Homo sapiens: one gene and its partners. The protein of the gene in region 2 interacts with the protein of the main gene of each other region in a pairwise test. Each region holds a gene or a part of one and is shown on either strand. Other genes may lie near its edges.

Region 1 (7,042 bases), on a different chromosome or scaffold from region 2:
TATGTAGCGCGCTCTCTCTCTCTCTCTTTTTAATCCCTCTTGGGTAAGTGGTTATGAATAGCGAAAATATGTGAATGTCCTTGGCACTTTGAATCAATAAATGCCTTCTGTTTTGTGTGTATGTACAGAATACTGGGAAAAATTTTGTCATTAAGTTTTACTTTAACTTCTTTTCCCCTAAGATTGAATAGCCATAGTCTTTCAGATTTTAGCTGCCCAGATAACTGGAACATAGATAATTTTTTCCAAGTAGGAAGTGCGTGCCTTTATTGTCTAATAGATCCATGGTCTTTGATGACAAAGGACTTTATGAGATTTGCTAGTTTTTCCCTCAACAAAGAGTGAAATCAAAAATCTCACTACCTTTTGCTTTTAACCCCCTCCCACCCCCGCCCCCTGCCCCATTCCCTGTGTGGTGAATAGCCTGAGAATAGGGACAGTGCCCAAGAGTTCACCCACTTTCAGAGCCAGAGGGCTCCTGTGACCCACGTCGCTCTCCTTGACATCATTTCCAAAAAACAAATCTCGGGGAGCCTTTCCTGGCAGCAGCCCACAGTGGGAGTGGAAGGGCCTTGGAAGTGTTAATTCTGTAAGTACTTCTACTGGTTTTATGTGTCACTTCTAGATCTTTGTTGGTAGAACCATGAAGGATTTAAGGTGCCAATTTGTTGTGACAATAACTGGTGTAAAAGTGGGCTTCTCACGGTCACTCAGGAGAAGGGACATGGTCCCTTCAGTTGGTTACTTCTGATTCCAGGCTGGCTCTGCATTCTTTTGTGTATCTTCAGCCTGGGCAAACAAAAAGCTCTTCCTAGGTTAGCAAAGCAAATGGGGCGGGAATCAGGACTCTGGCATGGCCCTTACAGGCAGGCAGTAATGAGCCAGGGCCGATTCGGGATGGAAGCCAGCAAAAGTGGGTCTGGGCCTGGCGTTTGGCTGACCCCGGTAAGAGAGCTCCTTTCTCAGGTCTGTCAGCGGCCAGCAGCCTTTGTGCGGCTCTCTAGAGTTCAGATCCAAGCAGACATGTTGGGTCTCAAAATCAAGTCCTGTGAAGTGTTCTTGGTGTGAATGAAAGGTTCTTTAGAGAACTAGAGGCTATAGAAAAAGAGGTGAAGGTGACTCAAACTTGAAGGAAACATTGAAAGGGCATGATTGTTGCCTTAGCCCTACAGTGAGCAAGTTATTTATGCCTTTTTGCATTCCCTTCGATGCACCCACAAAAAGGGGGAGGTAATAAATAAGTAGTTTTTTTTTTTTTTTTTTAATAAAAAGAACTAAGAGAGTAAGAAGGATTGCCAAATGGAGTAAAAGTCAATCATGATTAACATGGTATAGCTGACACAGGTATTTGGAAGAGAAAAAGAGTCATGTCTTGGAGTGGTTAGGGTAGAATTTTAAACACGGGCCTTTTGTGGGGAAAGCCAGTTATGAGTGCCAAACAGTTTGAAAACTGGCTTATAGAGCTTTTGTACTTCTGGAATGAATGTTAGATATAGTTTGGAGCAGAGCTCAGGTACAAGCTCCATCTAATGGACACCTGTCATGACGGGTCAGAGTTGTGAAGTTAAATATTTGGTTGTCTGTCACCATGGAAACGTGTGTAGTATGCATAATATGACATAAACACAACCCTTTCCAGGCGGAAAAAAGGCTGATGTCTAGGATCACAATCTCTGAATCCTTCTGATCTTTCTGTAGCTGTCTCTCTGGATCAATGAGAAGATGCTCACAGCCCAGGACATGTCTTACGATGAAGCCAGAAATCTGCACAGTAAATGGTTGAAGCATCAAGCATTTATGGCAGAACTTGCATCCAACAAAGAATGGCTTGACAAAATCGAGAAGGTGAGTTAAAACATTTGATGTGGCCATGGTGAGAAAACAAACAGGGTAGTAATAAACTCCTTTTTATTTAGCACATTTTCCAGCATATCTGATCTTATCTGTACATTTACGTAAGTTACACAGCCAGTAATAGCTCCCTTTGCACGTACGGGTTCCTGACTTCAACCCATCAAAAGGGAAAAAAGCAGAAACCCAACCAGTTAGTAGAAAATGCTTGATTTATCGTAGAACGAATACTAGGCATTTAGTTTCTGTTGTGCCTCTCATCTGCTGTTGCTGATGGACTGTGAGCTCTCATGCAGGGATTCCACTGTCTTGATCATATTATTTGTGTTGTACTGTGACAGATTGCACATAATTTTAAATATATACATATTTTTTAAAATTGCTTTTTCCTATGAGACTACTGTATACCAGGCGCTATAATAATTACTATGATGTGTTATTCTTGCACAGAGAGATTCTGGGCAGCATAACTGAAGATGAATATGGAGTCCCCCCCTTCCCCCCGACTTCTCTCCTTTTAGACTTTTTATAGTGTTTCAGATTCTTCACGGTTAAAATAATGTGTTGGCAGGGCACGGTGGCTCATGCCTGTAATCCCAGCACTTTGGGAGGCCAAGGCAGATGGATCACTGGAGGCCAGGAGTTTCAGACCAGCTTGGCCAACATGGTGAAACCCCATCTCTATGAAGCATACAAAAATAGCCAGGCCTGGTGGTATGTGCCTGTAATCGCAGCTATTGGGGAGGCTGAGGCACGAGCCCAGGAGGCAGAGGTTGCAGTGAGCTGAGATCACGCCACTGTACTTCAGCCTGGGTGATAGAACGAGACTCTGTCTCAATATAATAACAATAATAATAATAATAATAATAATAATAATGTGTTGTATATCATCTTTGGTCATGGAATGGAGGAGATAAAGTCACGTTATTAGCATTCAGTATTCCGTTGCCCCAGTTGAGACTATTTCAGCATGTAACATTTATTGCTTAATTCCCATGAAACCCTTGTAATGTACACAACCTAGGGGTCGTTGTTGATTTTATTGAGCAGTAACTTCATGTGGAAAGACTGTGTGTATTGAGTGAATGGTTAAATCACAGATCAAATGTCCTAGGTTTGTTTTTCACAGTGACATTTTTTCTGTAGCAAACTTGTTTATTTACAACCATGTTGGTTTTGTTTTCCAGGAAGGAATGCAGCTCATTTCAGAAAAGCCTGAGACGGAAGCTGTGGTGAAGGAGAAACTCACTGGTTTACATAAAATGTGGGAAGTCCTTGAATCCACTACCCAGACAAAGGCCCAGCGGCTCTTTGATGCAAACAAGGCCGAACTTTTCACCCAGAGCTGTGCAGATCTAGACAAATGGCTGCACGGCCTGGAGAGTCAGATTCAGTCTGATGACTATGGCAAAGACCTGACCAGTGTCAATATCCTGCTGAAAAAGCAACAGGCAAGTGGACAAGCCATCATGGACTTGGGTGTATTTCTGTTTTACAGCCATAGTCCTTAGAGTCTTTTCTCACCCACTGCATTATCAGGAGTCCACCTTCCATGGGAAGGCATTTTTAACCCAAAATATTACTTGCTCTAACAGCATCGTAGAACATTTCCAGAATAGAAAGACACTTGTCCAAACTAGAAAGACACAGTATTAGGAGTATTGGGTGTTGGCTGTCTGTGTATGGGATTGATAATTTTCTTAGTTAATGGGTATTATCACCGTTTAACAGTTAAATAAATGTTCATCTCATTCAATTCTGCATTTTACACGAAAGAAATATTCTCATACTTTGTTGTTTAACATCGTGATTTGTGACAGTTATCTGAGTTGTTCAAGGCACTTTATAGGTAATAAAAATAACTGTTTATATTATATCACCGTAGAGGGCTTTAAGGGCAAATGAATTTACCTCAGATTTACTTGAAAACAGTTCCATTGATGTTGAAAAGCAAGTCAGTGGCAAAATGTTTGAGTGGCTCCCATGGCTGGCTTTGCGGTGTGGCCAAGTCCCAGGCCCAGCAGTTCTGCTTAGAGCCAGTCACTGCAAAAGATAGTCTGTGCTGAGCGCTGAGGCTGCTTCTCTGCCCTCAGATGCTGGAGAATCAGATGGAAGTGCGGAAGAAGGAGATCGAAGAGCTCCAAAGCCAAGCCCAGGCCCTGAGTCAGGAAGGGAAGAGCACCGACGAGGTAGACAGCAAGCGCCTCACCGTGCAGACCAAGTTCATGGAGTTGCTGGAGCCCTTGAACGAGAGGAAGCATAACCTGCTGGCCTCCAAAGAGATCCATCAGTTCAACAGGGATGTGGAGGACGAGATCGTGAGTCGACCCCTACTGCACACATGGCTTTTCCACGAGCCCCCTTGCCTGTGCTAAAGCCCACATTCTCACTTCTCAGTCATCCTCACCTTGGGCCACGTTGGCAAGCTGAGCTGCCAAAGTCCACGCTCTGGATGGTCTAAAGTTTCTTTCCCTTTTCACCCTAAATGTAACTCCATTGGTCCTCTCACGTTATCTAGGGATACTGTAGGATTTTAATGGCCCTAAAACAGACTTTTTAAAAGTAATGAGGACTCACAGTGAGTTTGACCTTGAGGATGAGGTAGAGTTGGAAAGACTCTCCCTAGCCCTGTCTCGGAGAACAAGGGCGTGCTTCCCCAGACAGCCCTCCCGAGGGGGCTGAGCACTCTCTGAAGCTCACCCTTGCTGTCCCTCACTGCCCCTCACTGCTCGTTTGTGTCGTATATTTGTTCCTCTGAGTGGATCTGACCACTTATTTAAAATTCTTCCCAGTTGTGGGTTGGAGAGAGGATGCCTTTGGCAACTTCCACGGATCATGGCCACAACCTCCAGACTGTGCAGCTGTTAATAAAGAAAAATCAGGTAAGCCTTTCTGCTCGAGCTAGTTCTGTCTGATAAATAATTGCTCTAAATTATGAGACTGGGAATGGCAGAGAGCTTTGAAGCCTTGCTATTTCTTTCTGGCCCTAACAGCTTGACATAAGCAGCAGACGGCTGCCATTTAGCAAGCCTTTGTGTGTATTTTCCGCTCCCTCCAGACCCTCCAGAAAGAAATCCAGGGGCACCAGCCTCGCATTGACGACATCTTTGAGAGGAGCCAAAACATCGTCACTGACAGCAGCAGCCTCAGCGCTGAGGCCATCAGACAGAGGCTTGCCGACCTGAAGCAGCTGTGGGGTCTCCTCATTGAGGAGACAGAGAAACGCCACAGGCGGCTGGAGGAGGCGCACAGGGCCCAGCAGTACTACTTTGACGCTGCTGAGGCCGAAGCCTGGATGAGCGAGCAGGAGCTGTACATGATGTCAGAGGAGAAGGCCAAGGTGAGAGGAGGCGGGAAGCATCCCTGTCCCAGGAGAGCCTCAGATTCAAACCCTGGGCACACTTTCTGCTGGCGGCTCTGTCTGTATAAAAACTTCCCTTGTAGCCTTTGAGTGTTAAGGGGACACCATGTGCATGAAGGTGTCTGAAATCCAGCTGCTGGTTTCCCTTTGGTGCAGCATTTTCTTATCTGAATCCTAGTGTGCCATTAAGAACAGGTTCATCCTTTCATCTTTGAAATATGCCAGAGTCCTTCCTGCTGTCTATTTATAGGTTCCCTAAACTTTACAAAATACAGGATGGCTTGGAGACAATTTGAAAGTATTGCAAGGTTCCAGGAATGCTGCCATTTACATACTTGAGGGACCTTGAGGAATTCCAGCGAACCAGGCACACTTGGTCTGCCCAAGCTTTTCTCTGAGAGGGGCCCTGCTCATTCTGCGTTCTCCTTGTGTTTATCTTCTGCACAGGCTTCTGTGGTCCAGTCCATATGGAAGCTCTTGGAACACTTCTGTGTTCCACTGTCCGTACTGCACCTCTGGAGTTTTTCTTTCTACTGATCCTTCCTCCTACCCTGCTGAGCAGCTGGTCTGTCACTCCTTAAGGGGTAGGGCCAGAGGGGACCGCTATGGTTGTGATGTTCTCCTGTCTTTGCAGGATGAGCAGAGTGCTGTCTCCATGTTGAAGAAGCACCAGATCTTAGAACAAGCTGTGGAGGACTATGCAGAGACCGTGCATCAGCTCTCCAAGACCAGCCGGGCCCTGGTGGCCGACAGCCATCCTGAAAGGTGAGCGCTGCTTCATGAGTGTGAGACCCGGCTCTCGATTCCTCTCAGTTAGGGTCTCTTGCTAACCCCCACCAAAAGAAAATGTCAGCATTCATCATGACTTGCTGGTAAGGCAAATCTTTGAGAAGCATTTTTAAAACAGACCCATCATTTAAAACATCCTATCATGATTAGGATGGGTGAACTGTTATATTAGGAAATTGCTCTTGTGGGTTAAATATCTCCCGTTGGCCAAGGCTCTCCTGAAAGAATATTGGTGTCGTGAGTCAAAAGTACAGGTTGACTAGGCTGGGCAGTCAACGTAAAGTGGCTTACACTTGTAATCCCAGCACTTTACCAAGCCAAGGTGGGAGGATTGCTTGAGCCCAGGGGGCCAAAGACCAATCTCGGCAATGTGGCGAAACCTCATCTCTACAAAAAATACAAAAAATCAGCTGGGTGTGGTGGCACACGTCTGTACTACTCAGCTATTCAAGAGGCTGAGGTTGGGAGGATGGTTTGAGTCCAGGAGTTTGAGTCTACAGTGAACCATGTTCACACTGCTGCACTCCAGCCTGGGTGACAGAGTGAGACCTTGTCTCAAAAAAATAAAAATGATCAGAAGTACAGGTTGACTTGCATGGTGGATACAGATAGTCATAGCACTTACACTTGGGTTGAAAAAGTCATCCAGTTTAGTAAAGTAATTACTAGTTTTAAGAGGAGCATTAGACAAGAATGCATAGACCTGTAAAATGAAGGGGCTCCCAGGAAGAACAAAGTGATAACACCTCCTAACTCTTCGATATCAAGTGATTAGAACACCTTCGAGGAAAAAGAAGAGGTGAGTGTGTGGTACTCATCAGGCCCCTGTATTAACTTCCAAAGCAGTCATTTTAGGATTTTTGTGTAAATGCCTTTTATGACTTGGAAAGGAATTGGCCTTGTGCATTTAACCAGGGCAGGTTAGGGGAGATGAGGTCAGTGGCTCTGTTGGTGTAGGAGGTTCTTAAGATGTTCATGATCAGGATTCCCAGGAAAGTGGCCTTCCTAGTCTCCAGGGATAGGCACCAACATGTCCTTTGT
Region 2 (7,042 bases):
TTCTGCTGCTGCCCCAGCTCTATGTGGAAATGTTAGTGCCTGCCCTACCTCTTTCACAGACATCTTCCAAAGATCAAAAGAGAACATGTACGTGAAAGTGTTCTATTTGGTAGGGGGAATTCAACCTTGAGGAGGATGAAATGGTTTTGATTTCATAGGATGGAAAGAAAATCTTGAATTAAATCAGATTAGATCTTTGTGGTTTTCTCCTTATATGTTTAGAGGTCTTGGATGGTGGTTTTATTTTTAAATAAAAACCTAACAGTAAAACTAAAGTGAAATAACCTTTAGTTAAAGATATTTATCCAAAAAAGATGTGCTTATTATGTTGAATACAGATGTGTTTATGATGTTAAAGGACAAGAATAGAAGAAATGGACATGACTGACATTGCAGCTTATTCAGCAAAACTCAAATTTAGAATATTGTGACATAAAACCCTGATATTGAGTTTACTGTTCCCTCATCTCCTTCTGACATCATGTTTTCATGGTGCCATTCAAGCCCAAGATTCATTTTTTAAAGTAAGCCTTCAAGGTACATTGCTCACAAACGTAATATCCTCATGAAGTCCCTAAATAAGGATGTAAATGTAATTATTCTTTTAAGGAAACTATCGTGGGAAGGAAATATCTTCAATTCCAGCATAAAATCATCCCTGAATTGAGGATTTTAAAGCTTTTGGAGCCAACACCAATTCACTTGCATCACCAGGCCAGAGTAGAAGGGCTCAAAGCTCTCCTCCCCAAGAGAAAGCCCCTTGGTTTGACTCTGTTCAGGATAAAGTACTGCTGTATAGGCTTCCTTACTTAGTTTATTGCCAATTATGTCAGCTTTTCATATTGATCAAGTAGTCAATATAGGAGGTTGCTTTTACTGAAAGGGAGAGGTAAGCTCTGTCACCACAGTGATCTTACAGATTTTAAGGTGCCACATGTGGTCCAAAATGTAATTTTCTCACTACAATTCTTGCAGTCTGATAATTAATGAAGTCCTACGAATGCACAATGACTAGTGAGTAACCAATACCAGAAGAAGCTGGAGACAGGCACGCACTGACTAGAGCACTAGAATGTGAACACCTGAATACCTTGAAGAATCTGTGATCGTTTTACAGCCCAAGCACAGTATTGTTAGCATTGTTATTCCTGCAGTATTTATCTGCTCTTCTTAATCTTCTTGCTTATTGATTAGTATGGCATGGGGAGCAGCACCAAAGCCTCCTTCACCCCCTTTGTGGACCCCAGAGTATACCAGACGTCTCCCACTGATGAAGATGAAGAGGATGAGGAATCATCAGCCGCAGGTAAGCAAGAAGGGCCCTGTGTTTAAAAAACAGCTTCGTCTTCCTTTCTGGTATGACCTGATAAGGAAATTAATCCTCAGTTCAGTAGTTAAGCTGATTACTGCTTAGGTCCTATCTTAAAAGGAAGACTTTTTAAAATTATTATTTCTGTAGGACTCCTAAAACAAATGTATTACTTTCCATTTTTTTTCCCATCTCTTCTATTTCGTTTCTGGTAGACCCAGGGGTACATAGGGACCCTAGGAAAAGCTGTTCCTCAGTGATCTCTGAACATAACTAAATGTTTCCCCAAAACAATTTCTGGGTACAATGTTTTACACACATTAGGCACTTAATAAGTGTATGGTACATTGTGTTGAGTTCTAGGTGTGTGCTTCCCACCACAAAGATCAGGCTGATTTAAAGGAGTCTTGCTTTCTAATCTTCTTCAAGTAATTAATCATCAAAGTCAGCTTAGGACAGTTTTTCAACTGATAAACTGCAATTTTAAAAAGTAGATCTTTTTTGCCTATATACAAGAGTGGGGATGGTGTATTTAATTTGGGACTTTCTAGACTCTGCAAGTAGTGTCTATAAGCCTGTTTTTCTAATGAATAAAAGATTCCTTTGATGAATGACTTAGACTTTATTCTACTAAAACAAAAAAAAAGTGTAAAATAAGGAGAGTTTCAGAGTTTCCTTGCCTTTACTATAATTCAAACCAAACAAGGAGAAATCATAGTGTTTTGAAGCCCCATCTCCATAAGTTATCTTTTAAGATGTCACTGACTTCTCTGATTCTTTTTCTCAAAGCTCTGTTTACTAGCGAACTTCTTAGGCAAGAACAGGCCAAACTCAATGAAGCAAGAAAGATTTCGGTGGTAAATGTAAACCCAACCAACATTCGGCCTCATAGCGACACACCAGAAATCAGAAAATACAAGAAACGATTCAACTCAGAAATACTTTGTGCAGCTCTGTGGGGTATGTTGGTGCTTTTTTTTTTTTTTTTTTTAAATAACCACTCATTAATGAACTGACCCTCAAACATTAAAAGCCTGTGGATCTTGTCATCAAAAGAACACTGGTTGAATCCTGGGTATTAGAGACCTAACTTGGGACTATCTTGACCTCAGGAGAAACCAAAAGGAGTTTTATATGTAGAAATAGCTGATACGCTACTAGCCAGGAAGACGAGATTAGATTCAGAGCAACCTTGTCACACAATAGTGATAGGCTAAAGCCAACAAGAGAACTAGCTACCACTGAATACATTGAGTGGGCAAAGCAAAGCCTATAATGTGATCAATCAGAGGCGATTTGTGTCTGGCACTTTGTGATATACCCCACGTTCATTCTCCATGATCCATACCACATCCTGCAAGGGGAATATGAGCATAAATAATGGCATAAACCTTTATTTCAAGCTGAAAAATCAGCCCAGAGTATTTTTGTGAATTACTAAAGGTCATAACCCTAGCAATAACAAGATAAAACTTGAAAAGAACAACAAATAATTTAATGAACTTTCCCTTTTAGTTTAAAACATCAATCTGCATTTTCTCGTGAAAAAGATCTGCAGGTTTTAGCTGACCTCAAACTCAGGAGAGGCATGATGAGATTCTATCAAAGTCTTGGTCTGTGTTACTATAAACATCTCATACAGATTAAGGAAGGACATGTCCCCTGTGTACCCACTGAAAATACTAGGCTTGGATTGGGGAACCATAATTTTAAAAGGCTGAAAGCATTTGAGATGTTAGCGGGGAAGAGTGTGAAGCCTAGGAACCATTTCATGATAGAGGCTCTGTCCTCTGGAGAAGAGACAGAAGAGAACAAGATAGCCACATTTAATACTGAAAGGATTAATATATGGACAAAAAAGCAGACATTTGTGTTGATCAGAAGATAGAAGTACAAGACGTAAGAGAAGTTAGAGAGTTACATGTTCATGAATAAAGTACACTGCACAATGAGCCTCTCAATGTGTGTGTGTGTTGAGGGGTGGATGATACATTTCCCTAGCCATAAATTTTTAGGATTACAACTACCCAGACAAAGCCACTTATGTGCCTGTGCTTCTGTAATAGGGATTACTGCATGGGTGTTGGGCTGCACTAGATTTAGAGACCTGAGAAGTCCCTTAAAGTGAGTATGTCTGTGACTCTCCAGCTATTAACACTTCTCTTGAATGGGTTTATCATTTCCCTAAAAAAGAGCAAAAACTTGAGGGTATGGGGCATAAGATAGTTACATTTTGATTCAAGAAGGAGGAAGGGCCTTTCTTCCATTGGAGTATGGAAATGGAAATTCCACTGTATATTGAAGGTGGGTAGGCTAGAGACCACTGCATAGGGGTGGGGGTGAATCTTGGGGAAGAAGAGAAGTGATTTATAGGGAGAGCCAAGAAAGAAGTGGTTTTTCCAGGCAGGGAATAAAGGCAAATTATGCTAGCTTCACATCTGTGCCTAAGGCTCCTATTGACAAGGACTCTCTGCATTAGGTAGTAAATAACTAGATGTATGAATGCTGCTAACTTTATAAAAGAAAACTGTAATTTCATTACCAGAAGTACAATGATTTAATTATTATGTCAGAGCTTCTACATTCATTAGTTTATATTTACCTACTTGCCCATTAGTGTATATTTACAAGTCACAGTTTCTTAAATTTTATAGGGACTCTCGATGCAGAAGATTAAAGTTCATGAAAAGTCAGTCTTAGGGTGCTTCTTAAATTTACAGGTGTAAACCTTCTGGTGGGGACTGAAAATGGCCTGATGCTTTTGGACCGAAGTGGGCAAGGCAAAGTCTATAATCTGATCAACCGGAGGCGATTTCAGCAGATGGATGTGCTAGAGGGACTGAATGTCCTTGTGACAATTTCAGGTATGTTACTAAGATGATGAGTCCCCCAGGTCCATACAGCGGGAAAGGGATCCACCTCATTTCTGCAGAAACAGTTAGTTCTGCCCTTCCCAGCTAACAAACAACACAATAAAGTATAGCAGTATAGCCAGAGTGAGATTGCCCACATTTTGTAACACTGGGAATTCTGACCTCCAAAAAGAAGTCTCTCACCTCTGCATTAAATCTGAATTAGGCAGAGACATACCACAAAGGCTATATATTTATAGCTCTTTACCTCTGTCAGGACTCAGCAAGGATCTTCGGATGTTTTTAAGGTTTCTGCACTCCAGTTATTACCACATACAGACAGAATATCAAAATGCAGGCTTCCTAGAGGGACATTTAGTAAGCAGAAATTTCTTGGTCTCTTCCCTCAAAAATTCTCTTGCTTATAGCCCACTGATGTTTTGGCAGGTGCAGCTGGCACACTGGGTGATCAAGTCTACAAAAAGATTTGAGTGTGGGAATCATTACTGCTATGCTCTGTAGCTTTCTGATTCCCAAAAAGAGCCTTATATAGGAAAAAAAAAAAAAGATGGAGACTAAAGTGAAGGCCTTGTAACAAGTTAAAAATGCAACCTAAAAGAGGGTAGTTTTGTTGAAAGTTTTTTTTCTTTTTGGTATTTGAAGGAGTTTAACGAGTAACACCCGTCACTTCCCCTCTCATTCCATCTAGTATGGAACCAACTTGCTACTGCACTTTATAATCACCTAGGGAGATGTGAAAATCTAGGCTGCACCCCCAGACCAGAGTCAGAATCTCTGGGGGTGGGGTTTAGGCATCAGGAGCGTTCATAGTTTCTGATGTGTTTCCATTGTACAGCCAAGTTTGAGAACATGGATTTATGCTCAGCCATTGTTTCACGAAGAGACAACACAGGGATGCTGGTTTGAACTTTCCTCAAAGTTCAGCTGTACTTCCATTTTGACAAAATGCTTTTGCTTGTCACTAAACTTCCTCTTTCTTTTACCTTTCCACTGAATGCTCAGTTTCATCTCTTTTTATTCTCCCCAAATAAGGTTAACCAGGTAAATTCCTTTTGTATTGCCATTTGAGTTTAATCCCATGTAGTCTTTTGTTCTGGTTAATTGCTGTCCTGATTGCTATACTACCAAATCAAAATGAAAACTGCATATCTGCCAAAAGTGGGAATGCAACCAGAAAATTCACATTCAGACTTCATTATGTTGTTAGTGGCACATCTTCATTCTTAACAGTGTAAGAGTTTCCTTTTCTCATGAGGCACAGATAGGGAAAGGAGAAAATGAAAATAGGAGCAAAAGATTCTTGAACTAACCTTGGATTCATATTGGCATAGAAAGGAGGAAACACTGGCTCTCGTGTCCATCCTAGCTACTGTGATCAATGTGGATTCTAGGCCTTTGGTTACAAAATTGAATACTGACCACACAATGATTCCCTTAGTTTAGGTGATGAATGTGCTCTCCTGTCAAATGCATGTGTAATGCTTTACTAAGTTCTCTTCTGCTGGTATATATTCATCTATAAAATATAAAACATTTTTTTTGGGAGAGGCCGAGGCGGGCGGATCATTTGAGGTCAGGAATTCCAGACCAGCCTGGCCAACATGGTGAAACCCCATCTCTACTAAAAATATAAAAATTAGCTGAGCATGCTGGGAGCGGCACCTGTAATCCTAGCTACTTGGGAGGCTGAGGCAGGAGAATCGCTTGAACCCAGGAAGCAGAGGTTGCAGTGAGCCGAGATCATGCCACTGGACTCCGGCCTTGGCGACAAAAGTGAAACTCATGTCTCAAAAAAAAATAAATAAATAAATAAATAAAACATTTTTAAAGCCTAAGATAAAGAAAAATAAGTATCCAAAAAATAAAACCCATAGAGCTAAATTTATCATTAGTTAGGAAGAGTCATCCCAATGGACATTTTATCTGGTGCAAATCATCAAATGGAGTATATCAAGTTTTGCTACTTGTGTACTCTTCAATATTGTCTAAATATTTTATCATCCTATGAATTCTTTATTCCAAGATCACTTTACCAAACGGAAATTTAAGTTTTCAAGTTTGCATCCTTTTTTTCCTATTTTTGTTCAGTATTCCTTTCAGTGACTTCAGCACCATAAACCTGCCCAGTATAATTTTCTGAACCCATATTATCCTCTTGTTTGTTATTAGGTTATACGGTGAAGGAAAGGCAGGTGCCAAAATGCCCAGTTGCCAACACTTCTTCATGTGATTGATCTAGAATGTTCTGGAACTCTGATCACTCTGTTGAAGAGTTAGCTCTTACTAAGTTCAGCAGACACTGCTTTGCATTGGGAAGAGAGAGTAAGAGCACATGCTCAAATAAGAAACCACCTGAAGATAAAAGACATTGTAATTCTGTGATGTGTCTAAAACACGTAGAGCTATTTTAACCATAAGTTCTGGCAGAAACACCATTTTAATGACAAAGTGCTGGGGACACTGGTTATTATGCCTTCATACACACACACACACACGTAAATAAAATAAATTAGAAATAAATGGAGGTGGGGAAGGAAAAAGTGAGAGCTGTCACAGCAATTTGAAATTAAACCTCTATTATTTCAACAGGAAAGAAGAATAAGCTACGAGTTTACTATCTTTCATGGTTAAGAAACAGAATACTACATAATGACCCAGAAGTAGAAAAGAAACAAGGCTGGATCACTGTTGGGGACTTGGAAGGCTGTATACATTATAAAGTTGGTAAGTCTCAAGACATGGAATTATAAGTTTGGTCTGTTTACTCAATCAGACTTACTTAGTTAGGTTTCACCTAGTTTTTTCTATCAGATTGATGATGCATGTGTGACCAGCTTCAGATGTTGCTGGAACCTTCAGC
Region 3 (4,772 bases), on a different chromosome or scaffold from region 2:
GCCTGTCGGGGGGTGGGGGGCTAGGGGAGGGATAGCATTAGGAGAACTACCTAATGTAGATGATGGGTTGATGGGTGCAGCAAACCACCATGGCACGTGTATACATATGTAACAAACGTGCACATTCTACACATGTATCCCAGACTTAAAGTATAATTAAAAAAAAAAAGAACTATCATACAGAGTATGTGCTGTAGTAATTTCAGGAAACAGAAGGTCAGAGGGCTCCTTTGGGAAATATTTCAGATCCATAGCATGCTGCTGAGGTTTTGTAATTTTGAAATATAGGTGAGTACCAAAGAGACAGACAAACTAGAAAATGACCTGAAAAAATTTCAGATAGCAAGCAGCAAAGTTTTCAGACTCCATTAGCTTTTAATTGGTAGTCATGCAAATACTACTGCAAATCCAGGGGACAATTTAATGGACTTTTGGGAAGAGCAGAATTTTTAGAGAGTGCTGTTAATAGTCGTAAGAATAGTTGCAGTGACTAATCCTACTCCAAAGATATCATCACCCTCCCACCTTATAGAGCCTCTCCACTTCCCCCATTCAGTTCTAAACTGCCTGGTTTAGAAGGCAGGCAGGCATTTTGAAGCAGGTTAGATTCATGGATCTTAAAGACCTGTTTCTCTCCTTCTATCTCACAGCCCCTTTTCCCTGTCTTTTATGCTCTGTAGAGTCCCCCAGGGTATTTTCTTCCAGTGACAAAATATATGGCTACTGCCAATGTTCAGTTCACTAAGTATTGATGAATCACCAGGTACATGAATGCTCCACTCGATTCTCTGGGACCAAGAAAGATAACGAAAAGTCACTGTAAAAAATGTCCCTCATTGGTACAAATGAACTACAGAACCCTATGGTTTTTGGCATGGAAAATTAATAGGGAATGAATTCCTTCATTAGGGAAGCATAGCTGGCCAAGCAACCCTGGATGTGTCTATTTCCTGGAATTTTAACAGTCCCCCTCACCAAGCACAGATCTCAGATCCCACCACAGGCAACTCACAACATCCTCAGTCCCAGCCCTCTTCCATATTCTGGTCTGTGAGGCCAGACCAACTTCTTAACCACCTTACTGTTTTCTTTGCCTCCCAACTCTGGCTGGCCCAGAGGTGTATGCCTTACTTCCTGCAGAACATTTTCTACACTTCCCTAAGCTTTACTTGGGTCAGGACTGAGCTGCTCAGACTTTCTTAACCCCTACTTCTCCATCCCACCTTCCACCTGGGAAATTCTCATCTTCCCCAGGTGATAGTTTTAACTTGGTGAGTTATACCAAAATGAAGCTCAGTCTTCAGCTGAGACCCAGCTTCCAACATGGAAGGGAGAGCCATTCTCCATTACAGGCCCCCAGTGCTACAGAAAGGGAGCCATAACATTCACACAGCAAGAATTATGTATTTGTGGTAACAGGGGGGCCATGCTCAGTCTCATTCAAGTATGAGAAGCTTACCATAAAGCAGGAGAAATAGAACACATGCAAAAGTAACTCAAGAAATAGAATATGACAAATGTACTCAGTGGCACTGATGGAGTAGTAAAGGGGCATAAATGAGGGAGAAAACTTTTCTGAGTGTTTAAGCACAGCTTGAAGAAATGAGAGGCTTTTGAACTGGATCTTAAAGAACGAAAAAGGTTTCCATAGCAGAGATGGGCAAAAGGACAGGCAAAGAGAAAAAGCAAACCACACAGTGGGCAAAAGGAGGCGTTCCTCGGGTGTAGAAAAAAGTACACTAGGACGTGAGTCTAAAGAGCTGGGTGGGTGTGAGTATCCAAAGCCATCTCCTATGGGCTTCTTAAATGTTTTGCCTATTAACTTTTTATTTTAAACTTGAATAAAACTTTGTCCCTGTCTTAATTGTTGAATCCTTTTTCTTTTCAGGCCAGAGAAGGGGAAGTAGCCATTATCGATAAAGTCCTAGACAATCCAGACTTGACATCTAAAGAATTCCAACAATGGAAGCAGATGTACCTCGACCTTTTCTTGGATATCTGTCAAAATACCACCTCAAATGACCCACTGAGTATTTCTTCTGAAGTAGATGTAATCACTTCCTCTCTAGCACACACTCATTCATACATTGAAACGCATGTCTAAATGTATTCTGCCTTCAGACCATCTAGTACCTGCTGGTACTCTGAACAAGTATATAAGGTAGTTTTTATATCAATGTGTGGAACACTTGACAAGCTATACTTTAATGTTACCAAACTATATGAAACAAACCATATATGGTCACAATACCACTATCTTTAATGAGCATTTGTATATTTTATATGCAACAGTGCTCAGCTTATGTTTACCATGTGCAAAATCAACTGTCTTTAATGACTTAAAATTAACTTTTGCAAACAATTCTAAATACAGGTGGTCTTCAAGTAGTAAAACCACAAAAGGCAGTTTTCTATCTATGGTCATCTTTTCTCCCTTTAAGTTAATTTTATATAAACAAGACTTCAAAAGTAAATCACATTTTTTCAGGTGCAGACATCCTTGTGGGTGGGAAAGAATTTAAACCTTTTTTATATTTATTAAAATGTTCTAAGAATTTTCTTAAACATTGCACAAAGTTTAATGCTGTAGTTTTATTTTTGTGAAATGTAGATGCGCATACAAGAGCTAAGCAAAATAGAAGAGCATCGACATAAGAAAAGTTCAGGTATCTAATATTCGTCTTAATAGTCTATTAACTTGTGAAAGCTAAGTTAATGGAAATATTATTCCAAATCTATGAGAACACTTGGTGTATCAGGGCAAAGCTTTGTAAGATGTTTTTGTAACTAAGACCAAAATTGAAGATAGAGCTGCTTTATTTTCTTGGTTTAAATCTTCCTTTATTTTTGTAGTGATGAGATGCTGATTGTGTACAGAAGAATTTGAGAGGGGATTTTTAAAAACTGACTTAACACACCCAGAAAGGCAGCTAACAGCTATATATATATATAAATTTCAGCCCAAACTCATGTTTTTAAACTCCAACTCTTAAAAGACAACAAGGTATAAACTGAAATGAATCAACTTTCCACTTAGTTTCCAATTTTCCCCTAGTCCACTAATTAAACTTAGGTAATTATACTTCAGGTAGGGAAGTACAATATGTTTAGTTTCAGGCTGATGTGTGTTATAAAAAACAACACTGAAAAATAAAAATGTACTTCCCTTCTAAGGAGCAAGCAGGTGATGGTCATTCAAAGAGATGTCACATTGAATTATGAGAGAAACAATTTAGAGGTTTTTTTCCTGGCTTCATGAATTGTTCTATAGAGTGGATGAAGTCTAAGGAAAAGTCCTCTTCATATATTTCCATTTATAAGCGTCTTGTTTTTGAAAGTGATCACAGCATGAAAATGACTGTGCTGCTTTTTAGTGTCTGGCTGCATAATGTACAAGTCACAATTTGCTGTTTTTTTCAGGAGGAGAAAGGGAACCTCCTTTACTATTCTATATCCTAAAATCTACTTCTAATCAGCTTTATACTGTTGCCTGTACAGCTCAGTGAATGTACTTTCATCTTTAAGAGTTCAGATATATGCCAGTGAATATTTTTGCTGTAGAGGAGAAAGTAAAAACTCCACAGCGGGGATCTTTTTCTTTGCTTTTGAAACCACCATTGAATCACTATCGTTTTGCAGACTTTGCACAACTGTACAGGAGAGTGGCCTTTCTACAGCACATTTTCAGTAATCCTATATTTAGTCAAAATGGATGAGAAATCATGTATTAATGTTTGTATGGAATTTTGGGTCCAGTGTAATATTTTTATCATTTAAAAAGAACTCTATTTGTAAAAACATTTATTTACTGCATGGATATTGACGCACATTAAATTTGTGGGATTTTGTATATGTAAAAAAAAAAAAAAAAAAAAAACAAAAAACCTCTTGTCCTAAAATGAAGTGTGCTTGTTAACAGGTGTTTAGACTTATTGATGTTTACTAGACCAAATGTGTATGTTCACTTAAAAATATATGTACCTGATGGATGTGTCATGTTTACAGTGGCCAGGTTGTGGCCTGTAAACAGCAAGCAGTTGACGGGAAGACTAGCTCTGTTGCTACTAAGCAGCTTTTACTTTTGTAAAGTCAGCTCTGTTGTTTTAAATGGTAAAAATTAAACTAATGAATTTGACAAGACTCGTGGCTAGCCTAGCATGAAAGAGACCTTTTAACACTATATAATATCTGTACATTTTATTGCATTCGTTTCAAATCTAGGAGAGAGGCAGCACTGTAAACTGAAGTCAAATAAATTCAGCTCTTAATGAATCCTTATAAAGCACCTACTTTATTCATGCAAAGTCCTTACCACATTTCTTTGTGACCTAATTATACAGCCACCACCCCCCACCCTAGTTTCGAGTTCTAACTTTGCTGCCTCATTGGTGATACAAGCCAAAAGCAGCACCTGTTCAGTATATACAAGTGTCTTATCTAAGACCCTGAAAAATCAAGCTCGTTTCCCATTTACCTGAGACGAAGTTTAAAACTTTACCTATTCCTCTTTCCTTTCTCTGTGATTCTTTTGGGGGAAGTGGGGGTAACCACCAAAAATTGATTTTTTTTTACAAATATAATCTACAGTATGTCTGCAGAATGAACATTTAAAAGAGTATGAAAGAAATCAGTTTTTGTTTTGTTTTGGTTAGACATTCCACTTAACCAGAGGATCCTGATTATTATGGCTAAGGGTTGATGAAATGTGACTTAAAACCAGTGAGCTGTCTAAAGTCAGGGCAAAAGCAGCCTAGGGTGACACCGGTGACAGA
Region 4 (7,749 bases), about 160 Mb from region 2:
TGGACTCATATAATCTGTGTATTTCTTTGACTTAGCATAATATTTTTAAGGTTCCTCCATACTGTAGCATGTATTGGTACTTCATTTCTCTTTATGGCTGAGTAATATTCCATCATATGGATATGCCATTTTTTGTTTATCCATTCATTCAAACAACATTTGGGTTGTTTCTATCTTTTGGTTGTTGTGAATTGGGCTCCTACGAATATTCATGTATGAGTATTTGTTTGAATTGATATTAGAAAAATTATTCTTTGGCCTATGATAGGTGTTGCAACTATTGTTTCTGAGCTTGCCATTGGTCTTTGACTTTGCTTTTGTCAAGCAGAATTTTGTAAGTATTGTTCTGTGGTTGAATTTGTCAGCTTTTCCAGCTAATGGGTTTTGTGACACAGTTGGAAAGGTCATCCTTATAACTTGAGGTTATAAAACAACTGTACCATCAAAACCTCTGCTTATCCACGTATTTCCTTACCAATGAAACAGGTATTGAAAACAGCCCTACTTGCCATTCCGTCCCCTCCCAGGGTTATTGTGAGGACCACATACGACAAATGATATGAAAGAGCCTTACAAAATATAAAGCAATATATACACATTAGGCATGTTGTCATCATCACTATTAATTCTATTAAAATCTGCCATCAACTAGCTGAGTTCTGCTTGTTGCTTTCATTTTGCAGAGCAGGGCTTGAAGGGCAGAATTATTCACTGAGCTGCCCAAGGATGTATTTGCTGGTAGCAACGTGGAGAATGTTACAAAATTAGTCATCTCGGCGAGGGGGAGGTGTTCATATTCGACCAGAAAAATAAAAGTACTTTCAACCAAAAACTATTCTGGCCACTTTTCCTTCAGATGAAGCCTTTTTTCTTTCTACCAGGAAAAGAAACCGGTTCAGTGAGTTTTGCATTGTTTAGCTGTTATTGTAATTTATGCCTCACTAGTGGTCACTTGTGACATGTTTTCCTTATATTTTTAACCCCAAATTCTTTTTTTAAATGGAAAACTTTACGTTGAACTCCGTATTGAAACAATGTAATTATAGGGAATGAAAAAATGGGTTATTACTTGATAGCAATTATTCCTATGCTGATTCCTCCGGGATAGAATCGTGCACTGTTTAAGTCCTTGGGCTCCGCTATGAGCCATACCTGGGCTTCAGTGCAATTAAGTTACTAGCTAGCTTTGTGATCTTGGGTAACTTGCTTCACTGCTCTTGGCCTCCGTTTACCCAACTTCAAAACAAGGATGATTTACATCACTGGACTCATGGGGCTGTAGCAAAAAATCAGTGATAAAATCTACATAGAGTGCTTGGCCCTGTGCTTGTGTGCAGGGAGAACTTGGTAAATACTAGCTATCAGTATAATTTAGGAAAATCTAAAAGAATTCAGGAGATGAGCCCCAAGGAAATGGAATAAACACTTCCAGGGGCTTTTCTGGTCCTTAGTGGGTGGCATAGATCAAATCACATGGTAGAGGCCCTCCCCTCACACCTACCACATTTATTTGGAGACAAATCTGGTTTCTGTTACTACCATGTGAAGGGTAAACATTGGGAATAGCAGTTGGTTCTCAGACAGCAAGGAAAAAGTGGGCTCACAGAGGAGGAGTCACAGGAGGGCAGCGGGAGGGCTGGGGTGGGCTGTGGGGAGGACTGGAAGGGTGAGGACCTGGTGCTGGGGGCCTGCCCAGGTCACACCCACATCTTCTTGGGGATAGAAGATTCCAGATGATGTGGGTTTATTGTGTGTGGTGATGGATTTTTCAGGGGACACAGACCTTTTCCTCTTTTTTTTCCTCTCTTCCTTTTCCCAATCTGGGTATCTGTGGAGACCAAGCTCTAGTCCTAGGTCTGGCTTGGCTGGGCCCTGTATTAGTCCATTTTGCATTGCTGTAAAGGAATACCTGGGGCTGGGTAATTAAAGAAAAAAGTTTTATTTGGTTGGGTGTGGTGGCTCACTCTGCAATCCCAGTACTTCGGGAGGCTGAGGTGGGAGAATTGCTTGAGACCAGCCTGCCCAACATGGTGAGACCCCCATCTTGAGAAAAAAAAAAGTTTTATTTGGCTCATGGTTCTGCAGGCTATACCAGCATAACACCAGCATCTGCTTGGCTTCTGATGAGGCCTCAGGAAGCTTCCAATCATGGTGGAAGGTGCAGGCATATCACATGGTGAGTGAGGAAGCAAGGAAGAGGAGCGAGGTCCCAGACTCTTCATCAACCAGATCTCTTGTGAACCCATTACCGTGGGGTGGACACCAAGCCATTCCTGAGGGATCCATCCCCATGATCCAAACACTGCCCACCAGATCCCACCTCCAACGTTGAAGAACACATTTCCACAGCTCTAAAAAAGAAATTATGTCTGTGAGACTTCTGCTCTATGCCAGGCACTTTAAATCCATGATCGTGTTGGATCCTGTGCCATGGGTGGATCACTACCCTATGACAGATGAGGAAACCAAGACTCAGAGAAGGTGTATTCCTCCATGAGCCCCACACACAGCTGGTGCACAGCAGAGCCAGAAGGTAAACCACCATCTGACTTACTCCAAAACCCAGCCTCTGCCAGGTGTCAGCTCAGAGCGCTATACCATCTTTGGCCTTGGTTTTGTATGGCTTTTTGTGACATTTTTGTGACATTTCCATGGCTCAGCACCCTACACATAGGTCTCCTAGAACTATTTGTGGATTTAAAATTTTAATAATGGTGAAAATAGCTGACATTTACTGAGTTCCTGCCACCAGTGGGCACACAAGCAGGTTGAGCCACTTGCTCAAGTTCTCATGAGCTCAAGGCTCGTGGCAGAGCCAGGAGAGGATCCAGTCTGTCGTACTCCAAGGTGTATGGTTTTAACTTTCATTTTTCTTGAAGAATCTAGACTTGCAGCAGGGATGTTAATCTCTGTGCCCATCTTTCTCAGGTAACGTGGGGCTTTTGTGGGTTTGAACTAGTTAGAAGAGGACAGCAAAGGGCCTGAACATGTCCAGGGGAGGCGTGAGGCAGTGGGGTGATGGCAAGGGCTGCGGGCCAGTGGCATCTATTTCTGAACTGGTGACCTCCTGCCTCCGGGTACAAGGCTATAATAAGCCCCATGATTCACCAGTTGGACTTCTCCCTGTCGTTGCTCCAAGCAGGTCTTGTGCTTTGCCACCTGTGGGCCCCAGCTCATGCTGTGTGCTCCAGGAGAACATCCTGCCCCGCCTCACTCCCTTTGCCATACTTGCCTGGGGACGCCCACTGCAGCTGCCATGTCCTCTAGGAAGCCTTGATGGACTAGCATGGATAACCTATTCATTTCTGAGTCCAAACAGAATCATTTATTATAGACTCAGAAAAAGGCAAATGGAAGACTATACCTATTTTGAGAAATTTGGGAACATTTATCTCAGGGGACAGTCAGGGGCCAATACACATTAGTGACAATCTTAGCATATGAAATTCCAGTGATCAGCGACTCTTTAGTGCTTGACTCAGTTTTTACAGAATGAATCTTATTCTACCTTAATTCCACATGAAATGGGTTTGGTCTCCCTTGTAGAATGCAGGAGACTTTGAGCCTGGGTTGGAAGGCTGGTGACCTTGGGTAAGTCACTTCCCATATCTGAGCCTCTGCTCCTTTGTCTGTGAAAGAGTGGTGCTTATACCTATGTTGTTAGGTTGTTGGGGGATATAAAAGGGTAATAACAGTTGCTACTGTTTATTGAGTGCTTGCTATGCACCAGAGACTGTGCTAAGCTTAGCTTTGCATTTTTCTTTGATCTTTTCAAGAGCTCCTCTCATTCCCGATGTTCCTTACCCTGCAATATTTTTTCCCATAGCACTTTACATTTTGTATGATATTATATAATATACTTACTGTGCTTATTTTTGGTCTTCCTCTCCCAGGGCCTCTTGCCTCGTACAACTCCAGGGGGCACCATTCACAATGCTTTCTACTCCAGGGGTGCTTTTTACTAAGAATATTAGCATGAATGGTGGAAACTGCTGGAGTTGTGTGATGTGGAGCCCCGGGAGCTTCAGAAGGTCAGGGATTTTTGTGTGTGCCAGTTCTGATCATTGCTGTATCCCTGTACCCAGAACGGTGCTAGACCTATAGTAAGCATTCAGTAAATATCTGTTGAAAGAATGAATAACATAGCCTCCAAAGAGAGCTGATTTTACTATCTAGGAAACTGAGGCTCAGTCTGACTTATGAATTTGCCCAGAGCCCCACAAGCCAATGACCCACCCAGCTGTTCTGCCTCCAGTGTGCCTGCTCTGCGTGGCTTTGCTAAGCTGCATGCCTTTAACTCCTCGCATCGTCTCTGCCACCAAGTAACTGCTCAACAAATATTGATGCTTTTCCCTACATGGGTCAGGCCCTCTGCTAGACTATCCCAGTAGAGTGACAAACCATCATATAGCTGTTGATTCCAGAAACTGAATTAAATTGCACAGTGCAAAAAAAGGGAGGATCTTAAGTTTTTGGAAGAAAAATCCCTAACCCAAGTGCTAATGTTTGGAGTTTGCAGAAGCCTCTCAAGACTTACCAACCCGATTACTTTTCCTGCTGCCTTCCCTTTTGTGAGCGTTTCTTCCCCTTTTTGCTTGCAGTGAGTTCTGCTCTCCTGTAGGCTACAATGTGTCAGTTGTTATAAAATCCGGGAGGCGGAGTCTAGTGACGTGAGCAGTGGGGGAGAGCTCAGCCAGCCCTGCAGGGCGAGCAGTCCAGCCTTGTGTTCACCGGAGCTTAAGCGTTGCAGCAGGAAAACTTCCATCTCGCTCTCCTGGCTTTGATCCTCACTGGACATCAGACCAGAGGCACCGAAGGGAGGGAGGATGCGAGATGACCGGCCCTTTGGCAACCTGACCATCGACTTAGCAGAGCCTTCAAAAGCAAGCCAGGGGCTGGCTGCACGACCAAAGAGGCGCCGCGCCTCTCGTGGATGTGTGTGTGTGAGTGATCCAGCGAGTGTGTGTGCGTGTGAGGGTGTGTGTGTGTATGCCTGTGTGCACAGCACAACTGTGTGCGTGTCCCGGTGAGTGTGCCTGTGCATGCGTGAGTGTGTGTACGTGTGCATGTGTGTGTGAGTGCGCTTGGTTATTACTATTATTATTATTTTTGGAAGAAAAATCTTTGAAAATCTGGGGCAGGTTACTGTGCTCCTAGGGTGATTCTTCTTTTGCAAGAGGAGCTGACCAGGGCAAGCTACTAGAGCCATTTCTCGGCAAGTAAAGAGATTTTTCCTTCCAGAAGGAGAAGGATTTTTCTCCCTGCTCTGCAGCCAAGTGAAAGAGATTAGTCCCTAAACCTGTGAAATCGACCAGAGCTGTGTGATTACCAGGGCTTGAGAGAGGACTCGAAAAGAAAAGGAGAAATAAATCAAACAGCCTGTCAGTTCCTTTGGCCACGTCAGAAGATGTCATCTCAAACTAAGTTCAAGAAAGACAAAGAGATCATTGCTGAATATGAAGCCCAAATAAAAGGTGAGATGCGGGCTGGGAGAGTTTTCCTTCTCCTCCCCTTTCGTTTTTCTCTTGTTCTGGTTCCCATCCCCCGCTGCCCCCCGTTTTCCTCTCTGCCATTATGAAATGTTATGCATCAATAATCTTTTTGTGAGGAGTAACAGTGGCAGCCGCACAAGTCCGGACTGGTTTCAACTGCAGATAGCGCTGGGGCTGGGAGTGTGGATTATGGAATGGGCAGCAGTCTCTGCATTGCAGGTGTGTGAGGAGGATCCTATGCCTGACTTTAGGAGTGTCGCTGATACCCCATCATCTTGGCGGTGACATGTCACTCTAAGGCCATTTTGATAGTCACTACCTCCACCCCTTCCCTGCCATGGTAAAAGCCCTTTAATATTGGGGTATTTTTTTACCATCTGCTCTTTTTTTCCTCCCCCTTTTTGGTTTCTGTTGGTGGTGGTGGTTTTGCCTCCGCCTCTTTCTCTGGGCCGGAATTCACATGCATGTGCACAGCGAGGCAGCATCCCTGGGCGGCACTTCTTTGTCGGTGTCTCTGGGCTGGCCTGGGTTGCCATGGATTAACTGTTATGGGGCATATTGATCCAGACTAATGCAGGCATTTGGGCATAAAAAGGGAGCTTGGTGCAGAAAATGTATTATCTCGCAGTGTGCAGCCCAATCACTCTGTGCCCTGGCGTTTAGGTTCATCAGCTTTCATTCAAAGCCAACACCTCGGCATGCCGTTTGGGCTGGTCAGCGCTGCCTGGCTTCCGGGGTTCCAGGAGAAGCCTGCCGGGAGGGCGAGATGACCTCTGGCTGCTGGTTGCACCTTCTGTGCCACCGGGTGTATACTTCTTTCAGAAGCCGCTCCCTAAATCCACGCTAGCCAGGCGAAATAGGAAAGGGAACACAATTGCATGGCTAAATGCGGGCTTGCCGCATCCTCATTCAGGCCAGACTGGGGCTTCTCCCACCCCTACACGTTCTAGGCTCAGCTTTGGCAAGGAAAATCTAAAAGCTCCATCCAGCAGGCTCCTCCTTTCTCTGAGGATGTGCCCTGTGGGAAGCCTGGGCTCGTGCCTCTTGGCGTCCGCTTTCTTTCTGGTCATGGTTCTCCTTGCTGCGACACAGGGTGTGTTGTGGCCTCTCCTAGAAAGAGTAAAGACAAAATGCATCTTCAGCGGACCTTGAGGCCTATCTTTGAGGTTATGCACAGGCTGTTGAGCAAGTTGGGTATTTGGGGCTCAAGCAACCTGAGGTTGCCACACCTGCTTCTGGGCGCTGCTGCAACTGAAGACCCAATGACCCAGGGAGCTGGGTGGCCTCCTTAAAAGCAGCGGGAAGGCTGGGCACCGCAGCTGCCATACACGCTTCAGATGCTTGGGAAACTTTGGGAGTGGAGCAGCCACGGGGGGAGGGATCTGTTTTTTTTCCAGTCTCACCAACAGTCTTTTTGCCTTTTAGTCCTGGTCAAAAGCCCAGCGTGCTCATCACCTCTGGGCATATCCTAGGGCAAGAGGAGCAGAAAACCCTGCTCTTCCCTGGTCTCCTGTCTTTGGTTTTTCAGTTCAATGTGGAAAACAGTGACTTACGATGTCTCAGCCTTGCTGAAAATTTAGAAATAAGCGCTTTATTGGTCAGAGATTTTAATTCACCCAACTGCTCAATACAAAAGCCTAGTTTCAATCTTTGAATAGACTCTTTTTAGGGAGTTTATGTTTTATAAAATGAATTTGGCCAATTATTATTATTTTATAAAAATTAAGGTTGCCATGAAAATGCCTTGAGAGAGAAGGGGATGTTGAGTTTTGGACAGTTCAGGTTTTATGATATTTTCTTGGTAGGAAATGTGCTTATCTCATTTTGGAAGGATTGCTACTACTGGGCCAGTGAACTTTTCTTCAGGGCCAGTTAGGCATTAATTGCCCTGGCTGATCCTTTTGCTTTTTACCTTTCATCTTTTATTTTAACAACTAAGCAGCGAGTACCCTGAGTTTTATCAGAAATACACCAATTACCAGGCATTCATCAGGAAATGTGTCCAAATGATCTTGTCTCTTCCAAATACTAAATTTCCTTGCATTCTGGCTAAAGGAGTTACATCTTATTCCTTTAGAATTGACACCCACAAGGTCAGGTCAGGATATGGCTGTCCCTGAAACCCTCTGGAATCTTTTCTTTTAAAATTCTGTGTGTTAATCACCATCATAATTATTGATGTGTGTCTAGGGCCCTGCATTTTCTATGGCTAACTCCCAGACATCACTTACTCTTGGCCCACACAATGTACAGTAGG

Evidence for each region.
Region 1: the proteins of TNIK (region 2) and SPTBN1 interact in a two-hybrid assay, tested with the Homo sapiens proteins (2 studies listed by BioGRID and IntAct).
Region 3: the proteins of TNIK (region 2) and CNKSR2 interact in a two-hybrid assay, tested with the Homo sapiens proteins (2 studies listed by BioGRID and IntAct).
Region 4: the proteins of TNIK (region 2) and SRGAP3 interact in a two-hybrid assay, tested with the Homo sapiens proteins (2 studies listed by BioGRID and IntAct).

What each region holds. Positions count from the first base shown.
Region 1 is NC_000002.12:54,641,285-54,648,326, forward strand, and holds part of SPTBN1 (spectrin beta chain, non-erythrocytic 1), read left to right. Parts: intron 1-1,698; coding exon 1,699-1,845; intron 1,846-3,038; coding exon 3,039-3,302; intron 3,303-3,944; coding exon 3,945-4,169; intron 4,170-4,643; coding exon 4,644-4,733; intron 4,734-4,909; coding exon 4,910-5,191; intron 5,192-5,846; coding exon 5,847-5,977; intron 5,978-7,042. UniProt on the Homo sapiens protein: Fodrin, which seems to be involved in secretion, interacts with calmodulin in a calcium-dependent manner and is thus candidate for the calcium-dependent movement of the cytoskeleton at the membrane.
Region 2 is NC_000003.12:171,079,382-171,086,423, reverse strand, and holds part of TNIK (TRAF2 and NCK-interacting protein kinase), read left to right. Parts: intron 1-1,194; coding exon 1,195-1,306; intron 1,307-2,098; coding exon 2,099-2,269; intron 2,270-4,029; coding exon 4,030-4,173; intron 4,174-6,771; coding exon 6,772-6,906; intron 6,907-7,042. UniProt on the Homo sapiens protein: Serine/threonine kinase that acts as an essential activator of the Wnt signaling pathway. Recruited to promoters of Wnt target genes and required to activate their expression. May act by phosphorylating TCF4/TCF7L2.
Region 3 is NC_000023.11:21,650,418-21,655,189, forward strand, and holds the end of CNKSR2 (connector enhancer of kinase suppressor of ras 2), read left to right. Parts: intron 1-1,888; coding exon 1,889-2,104; 3' UTR 2,105-4,272; downstream 4,273-4,772.
Region 4 is NC_000003.12:9,246,610-9,254,358, reverse strand, and holds the start of SRGAP3 (SLIT-ROBO Rho GTPase-activating protein 3), read left to right. Parts: upstream 1-4,712; 5' UTR 4,713-5,407; coding exon 5,408-5,474; intron 5,475-7,749. UniProt on the Homo sapiens protein: GTPase-activating protein for RAC1 and perhaps Cdc42, but not for RhoA small GTPase. May attenuate RAC1 signaling in neurons.